2 linked regions of the Homo sapiens genome follow. The protein of the gene in region 1 purifies or fractionates together with the protein of each later gene. This does not show direct contact. Each region holds a gene or a part of one and is shown on either strand. Other genes may lie near its edges.

Region 1 (3,822 bases):
TCAATCGTTTTTCTTTGTGGGATTTAACAGGACCTGCTGTTTGCTTGTCTATTCATTGCTTGTGTGTTTTCTGCTTCCCTGCTCAGTTCTTAGCTCCATGAGAACAGGAGCTTCTTCTTGTTCATTGTGTCCACAATTCTTGGAGCCATGCCAAGCACATACTAGATGCTTCATAAGTAGCTTGGCACGGTTCCAAGCAGGTCCCAAGGCCCACCATGCATGACTCAGCTCTTACCTCTACAGAGGAAGAGGTGAGAGCTGGCCCCACCACCACCACGTGCACACATGCATTCCGGTACACACGGCACGCCTGGGGCTGAGCTGATCACACCCATAGTGTTTCTGGGTCACTGAGCTGCAGTTCTGAGCCTGGCCACCAGTAGAAAGCCAGAGTGGGGCCCCAGTGTGAGGGTGGATGCATTGCAGAACAGAAGATGCTGGGCCCTCGAGTCCCGTTCCACTTGCCCCTGCAGATCACAAGTGTCCTGAGAAGGGCTGCCCACACTACCTTACGTAAGAACTGCTATTTTTAGCTTGCTGATCTTGGCTGTATACTGCAAACCTAGGGGATTACCAGTGACAGAACTGACCTGTCCCACCATGACTGATCACCGAGTACCTGGCTGAGGGACAATCTGACAAAACCAGAACTGCATTCCACAAAGAGCAATGACTGCCCAGCAGAGACAACCAAAATGCCTACCAGCAGGGAAAAGGATAAAAACCCGGGGCTACTCACGCAATGAGAGATACAGATCAATGTGGTCTGACGGCAAACAACAAACGTGGAGTGGAAAAACACAGCCTGTAGAATGTTGTATGTAAAGTGACACCACTTATGCAGGAATTACATAACATTCTGAAAGTGTTCAAGAACTATATCTATGAATAAAAATAGGTAGGAGGAAGGCCGGACACAGTGCCTCACACCTGTAATTCCAGCTACTCGGGAGGCGGAGGCAGGAGAATCGCTTGAACCCAGGAAGCAGAGGTTGCAGTGAGCCAAGATGGCGCCATTGCACTCCAGCCTGTGTGACAGAGTGAGATTCCATCTCAAAAAAAAAAAAAGGAGGGGAAAAAAACAAAACAAAAAATAAATAACAAGTGTTGGTGAGGGTGTGGAGAAACTGGAAACTGTGCACTGCTGATGAGAATAGGAACTGGTGCAGCCCCTAAGGAAAACAGCATGGAAGTTCCTTAAAAAGTTAAAAATACTCACGCCTGTAATCCCAGCACTTTGGGAGGCCGAGGAGGGGGGATCATGAGGTCAGGAGATCTAGACCATCCTGGCCAACACGGTGAAACTCTGTCTCTTAAAATACAAAAAATTAGCCTGGTGTGGTGGCGAGCGCCTGTAGTCCCAGCTACTCGGGAGGCTGAGGCAGGAGAATGGCGTGAACCCAGCAGGCGGAGCTTGCAGTGAGCCGAGATCGCGCCACTGTGCTCCAGCCTGGGCGACAGAGTGAGACTCCGTCTCAAAAAAAAAAAAAGGTTAAAAACAGAACTACCATATGATCCAGCAATGCCACTTCTGGATATATATCCAGACTGAAAGCAGGGACTAAAATAAATATCTGCTTTCCCATGTTCATATCAGCATCATTCACAATAGCCAAGAGGTGGAAGCAACTCAAACGTCTGTCAATGGGAGAATGGATGAACAAAATGTGGAACATACATACCATGGAATACTATTCAGCCTCGAAAAGGAAGGTAATTCTGACGCACACTACAACACGAATGAGCCCTGAGGACATCATGCTAAGTAAAGCAGGCCCATCACAAAAGGACAAATACTGTAATAACTTATATGAGATATACATACTGATCAAATTCATAGAGACAGAAAATAGAATGGTGGTTGCCAGGGGCTGCCAGAAGGGGAATGCGGAGGTTGTCTGGGTATGGAGTTTCAGTTTTAAACGATTAAAAAGTTTTAGAGGCCAGGTGTGGTGGCTCATGCCTGTAATCCCAGCATTTTGGGAGGCCAAGGCGGGCAGATCACTTGAGGTCAGGAGTTCGAGACCAGCCTGGCCAATATGGTGAAACCCTGTCTCTACTAAAAATACAAAAATTAGCCAGGGATGGTGGTATGTACCTACAATCCCTGCTACTGAGGAGGCTGAGGCAGGAGAATCACTTGAACCTAGGAAGTAGAGATTGCAGTGAGCCAAGATCACACCACTGCACTCCAGCCTGGGCATCACAGTGAGTTCCGTCTCAGAAAAAAAAAGTTTTGGAGATCTGTTGCACAACAATGGGAATATACTTAACACTACTGAACTGTACACTTGAAAGTGGTTAGAATGGTAAAAATAAAAGATAGGAAGGAGAAAGTCAGGAGTAAGTAGCCTGGGGAGAGGACATAGATGTGACCAGGAATGGAGGGCTCAGATTGGATTCCACTTTCGTCTATAAGGTTTCATTTTTAAAAAAGTTTTTTTAAAAAAAGGCAGCAGCAAACACGATGAAATCCGAATATCTGCCAATTTCAAGAAATGGGAACACGTGTTGCTTCTTCTAATTTAAGGTCTTCAAAAGGAAAAGAATTACAGGCCAGTGTCTGGATTGGGTCCTGGGCTCCATGGGCTGGGGGCCGCTGAGCATGTCTCATGATGGGACGCCTGGCTGGGCCTGATAGGGTGACCACATGGCATCCAGGCCTGGGCACCTGCAGGGGATGTCAGGAGCCCCGAAGAAGCAAGGCCACGTGTGCCCCCAGCCCAGCTGTGTGCTGAGAAGTCAGGCCACTGGTGAAACGGGATGAAAACCCAAACCTGAGACTGCAGACCAAAGCCTCCACATTCAGTAGCTGAGGCAGGTGGGCTTTGTGCCCAGAGAGCAGGTAGCCCTCCCGCAACCCTGGGGGCTTGTTGAGCTCTGGAGACTGGGCCAGCCAAGTGGATGGCATGGAGGAAGGGAAGGAGCAGCACCAGGCAGAAGAGAGCTGCAGGCAGGGGTGCCCAATCCACCCTGGACCCGTCCAGCAGAGGGCAGAGTCCATGACGCTGTCTCTGCAGCCCTTGGAGGGGGTGCAGAACACTCCACATGGGACCCCTTTGCTGCTCTGCCCCCACCCATGACTCACAGACCCCCTCTAGGCTCTTAGGGCTAGTGTCCAGCTGCTGATGGTAAAATGTGGACCAGGAAGGGCGAGGAGGGGCATCTGGTGGCGATGAAAGGGGCTGGGCTGAGAGCTGACCCCACACACTGACTGGGGAAGCCAGGGGCTCACATGTGCCCTCCTTTGTGAACCTGCAGAGGGTCCCAGGTTGGGCGAGGGGCGGGGCAGACAACATCCTCCTGGGAGCTGCCCCGGCATGCTCACCTTCTCTACATGACCACAACTTCACATCCTGGTTTGACCTTGCCTGTAGGTTTTTCTTGGCAAATACAGCAGCCCTGAGTTAGATGGGGAATGCTTTTTTCTTTCTTTCTTTTTTTTTTTTTTCTGAGACATTGTCTTGCTTTGTTGCCCAGGCTGAAGTACAGTGGCACAATCAGGGCTAACTGCAGCCTCGAACTCCAGGGCTCAAGAAAGCCTCCCGCCTCAGCCTCCTGAGTAGCTGGGACCACAGGCATGCACCAACATGCCTGGCTAATTTTTAAATTTGTTTTAGAGGCGAGGGTTCACTCTGTTGCTTAGATAGGTCTTGAACTCCTGGCCTCAAGCAATCCTCCCTCCTCAGCCTCCCAAAGTGCTGGGATAGCAGGTATGAGCCACTGAGCCCAGCTGGGAATCCTTTTTTTTTTTTTAATTGTTCTCACTAGGGAAGTGAACCTCCCTTGCTTAGCACAGGGGAGAAAAAAGCTGAGCCCTGT
Region 2 (3,822 bases), on another chromosome or scaffold:
CCAAGTAGCTGGGACTATAGGCGTGTGCCACCACACCTGGCTAATTTTTGTATTTTGTGTACAGACGGGGTTTTGCCATGTTGCCCAGGCTGGTCTTGAACTCCTGAGCTCAAGCGATCTGCCCGCCTCAGCCTCCCAAAGTGCTAGGATTACAGGCATGAGCCAGCCACCACGCCTGGCCTTTCGCTCACTCTTTACCTTGCCATCTGTTACTTATTCTTCAGGTCTTAAATCAGACATCACTTGTTCTGGGAAGTCTTTCTGGTTACCCTTTGGCAAATCTCCATTTCGTGCCTCATCTATTAATGTGTCCCCAGAGCACCATGTACTGCCTTTAACTTTCCTGTCATCCTGTTTGCCATGCTGCACTGTAATTCCTTACACTGTGATCCCTATGAAGACTGGGACTTGGTGGTTTTGCTTTTTTGTATCCTCAGCATCCAGCACAGTAACTAACTCAAAGTGGATACTCAAATGTTGAGAATTTGGTAGAAAAGATGTTTGCTTTAAGAACTTAGGAAAAAGCAAAGAAAACCATATGGCCTATTGGGGGTTAATCTTAATTACATCCTCCTCCTAAGATGTCATCTCTTGTTCATGCTTTAAGAGTCCAATTATGCTTTTGCAGCTATCGTTCTAATGGGTAATACACATGCTGTTGTGCTATGTAGCTAGAATAGAGATCTTTTTATTTCTTATGTACTTCTATCAGTTTGACTTGAAAGAAACAGGTATATTGGGAAGGGGAAGAGGGAGAAGAGACTGTATCCGTAAGTAATATGGTGACATTGGCAGTACTGAACGTGCTTATACATAGATAGAAGATAGAAGTAAAAGTGATGTTGCTTATAACCACAGTAAGTTTTATATCTTTTATTCTACAGTTATTTGTTTCATTACATCTGCCAAGACAGGATTGTATATCTTTGTATCACTGATGATGTAAGTAACTTGAAGACATATTGCTATTTAACTATGTGTACTGTTAATACAGCCAGTTCTTAATTATCTATACCAGGGGTCCCCAACCCCCAGGCTGCAGACCGGTACAGGTCTGTGGCTTGTTAGGAACCAGGCCACATAGCAGGAGGTGAGTGGCCTATGAGCATTACCACCTGAGTTCTGCCTCCTGTCAGATCAGCAGCAGCATTAGATTCTCATATGAGTGTGAACCCTGTTGTGAACTCTGCATCCGAGGGATCTAAATTGCATGCTCCTTAGGAGAATCTAATGCCTGATGATCTGAGGTGGAACAGTTTAATCCCGAAACCATTCACCCTCCCCCAGTCCTTGGAAAAATTGTCTTCTACAAAACCGGTCCCTGGTGCCAAAAAGGTTGGGGACTGCTGATCTGTACCTATAGTGGGCAAACGTGATGCGAACTTTACATAGCTGGAATTGTTAATATTTTGCATTTGTCATATAGAGCAGCAAATGTTAAGAAAACTTGATACTGGGGTATGTGCAAATCAACTCAATTTTGGTAGAGTTTTAGCTTAGCCTCTTGCAACTTCTATATTTATTCTATTTTGTAGTGAGAATTGATGTTCATAATTATAATTCTTTGATATCAAAACCTCTCAAAAATTGTTTACGTGGAATGTTAAATTAGATAGCATCATTTCTTCTATCAGTAGTTAATGAATCCTTTAATGTATGTGAACTTTGGAAAAACAAAATTACAATACATTATGATCAGCTATATAAACCTGTAGTTTACATTGGTTAGGTATGACTGTTTGTCGGCTCTCAGCCCAAAATTCTCAGTAACTTAATGATGTCATTAAGGTCCTTTCTCTTCTCTGCTTATCTCCGTGTCTCCTTCTTCCCAGACAGGTTGCCATTATGGTTTCGTAGAGCTACATACTTATTTATTCATGTCCGGAGTAGAGGGACTGTGTCTTCTTGAGTGTCTTATTGTAGGAATGAGGAAGCTTTTCCCAGCTGCATGCCCTCCCCTCCCCCTGCTTTCAAAGTGAACTTCCTTTCATGTCTTATTGGCTGCATGCTCATTTCTAAACTGCCTACTGGCAAAGAGACTTGGAATTGGCATGGTTGCCATAGATCAGGGTTCCTAATCTTTATTGTATCACAGACTCGTCACTTGTGGGACACTCCCAGAATGTTTTTGTTTTCTTTTTTTAATTTTCCTTTTCCAGAATGCTTTTAAATGTATAAAACACACACAATTCTAACAAAGCCAATTATATTGAAATATATATATATATAGTATTCAAAATATTTTAAAAACTTGATGTAGTAATATATATGCTTCTTTATGAACTCATTAACAAGATCTAGTCATAGGTCTAATAACTAATAGTCTTGATGTGATGGGTGTTGACAGTATTTTGAGATATCTGTAACTGTGATGGTATACAAAAAAAGATTTCTGTTGGTGACAGTTACAGGTACTGTTTAATACTACCCCGATTATGAATATACAACCTATATTCACAATTGAAATATAAGTTAACGATTGATAAAAATAATGATGTGATTTTCTTTTTTTCTATCCAAGTTCAAAGGCCCCTTGAATTTGGACCATTGACCCCAATTTAAGAACCCTTGGCTTAGACTAAGCATCTTGGGTGAAAGGGAAATGACTGTCAACCATAGTGATCATCACAATGATTTTTATCTCTGGCTTCACAATATTTTCCAAAAGTACGAAAAAATCTAGCTATATGTGAAATGACTGATGTGAAACAGCTTGGAATAGAAGGAAAATACTAATGAAATCTGGGATAGTTAGAGTCGAGCCTCATATTTCTTGAGCTATAATTTGATACACACATATACATGTATACATAAACACACATACACACATTCATTTTTTTCCTCTAAGGTATTCTTACAGAGAACACACATACTTTTTGGCTGGCTGGGATTAGACATGAGTATGTCACTTGATCTTTTCAAATATACCACCACTATTGAAAAAATTCGATTTGAAGTTAATATCAGTAGTAGTATCTGTATGTGTGAAAGACTCTATGATTATTATGGGATTTATTAAACATATTCTTGTGCTGGGCCTTCTAATAGATCTTATGAAATATATGGAGGAAGTAAAATTCAATTCCTGATGTCAAGAAGTTGATAACCTAGGTATCATTATCTTCAGTTGTCAATGACCAGATATATCTGGATTCATTCTCAGCTCTTTCATTTACTAGTTGTTGGACCTTTGGACAAGTTAGTTACTTTTTCAGAGCCTTCCTTTACTTATCTTTAAGATAGGATCAATGCTAGTTCCTCCTCAGATAATCATTGCTCAGTAAATGTTAGCTGTTTTTTATTGTTGTTCTTAATCACTCACATCATCTTTGTTTACTTTCTAAATGTGAGTTCTGTGTTGATCTCTTTTCAGGATTTTGAACGTTCCCGAGCCTTTAATTTTCTGAATGAGATAAAGAAGAGGTTCCAGACTACTTACGGTTCAAGAGCACAGACAGCACTTCCATATGCCATGAATAGCGAGTTCTCAAGTGTCTTAGCTGCACAGCTGGTAAGATCTTTCTCAGGATAAGGTATTTTGATTTATATCTTCTTCATTACCTTCAAACACTATGAATCTAGGGGGCCCTGACCTGCAATATAGTTTTCTGATTGTGTTACTGTAAGCCAACATAATAAAACTTCCCTGATTAAAAAAAAAATGTAAAGGGGCCATTTTAGGGTAGAAAACAGTGATAGTCTTTATTATCTCTATTAATAGTGGTCACAGTGTCTCATGATTGGAAGAGCATTAAAGATCATCTAGTTGAACTACCCATCTGATGCTTAAATGTGTTCAGCATGCCAAATGATCTTTTAAAC

Evidence for each region.
Region 2: the proteins of PLEKHF1 (region 1) and VAMP7 fractionate together in Homo sapiens (co-fractionation; one large-scale study listed by BioGRID). This does not show direct contact.

Annotation. Positions count from the first base shown.
Region 1 is NC_000019.10:29,668,351-29,672,172, reverse strand, and holds part of PLEKHF1 (pleckstrin homology domain-containing family F member 1), read right to left. Parts: intron 1-3,822. UniProt on the Homo sapiens protein: May induce apoptosis through the lysosomal-mitochondrial pathway. Translocates to the lysosome initiating the permeabilization of lysosomal membrane (LMP) and resulting in the release of CTSD and CTSL to the cytoplasm.
Region 2 is NC_000023.11:155,894,739-155,898,560, forward strand, and holds part of VAMP7 (vesicle-associated membrane protein 7), read left to right. Parts: intron 1-884; coding exon 885-942; intron 943-3,373; coding exon 3,374-3,511; intron 3,512-3,822. UniProt on the Homo sapiens protein: Involved in the targeting and/or fusion of transport vesicles to their target membrane during transport of proteins from the early endosome to the lysosome. Required for heterotypic fusion of late endosomes with lysosomes and homotypic lysosomal fusion.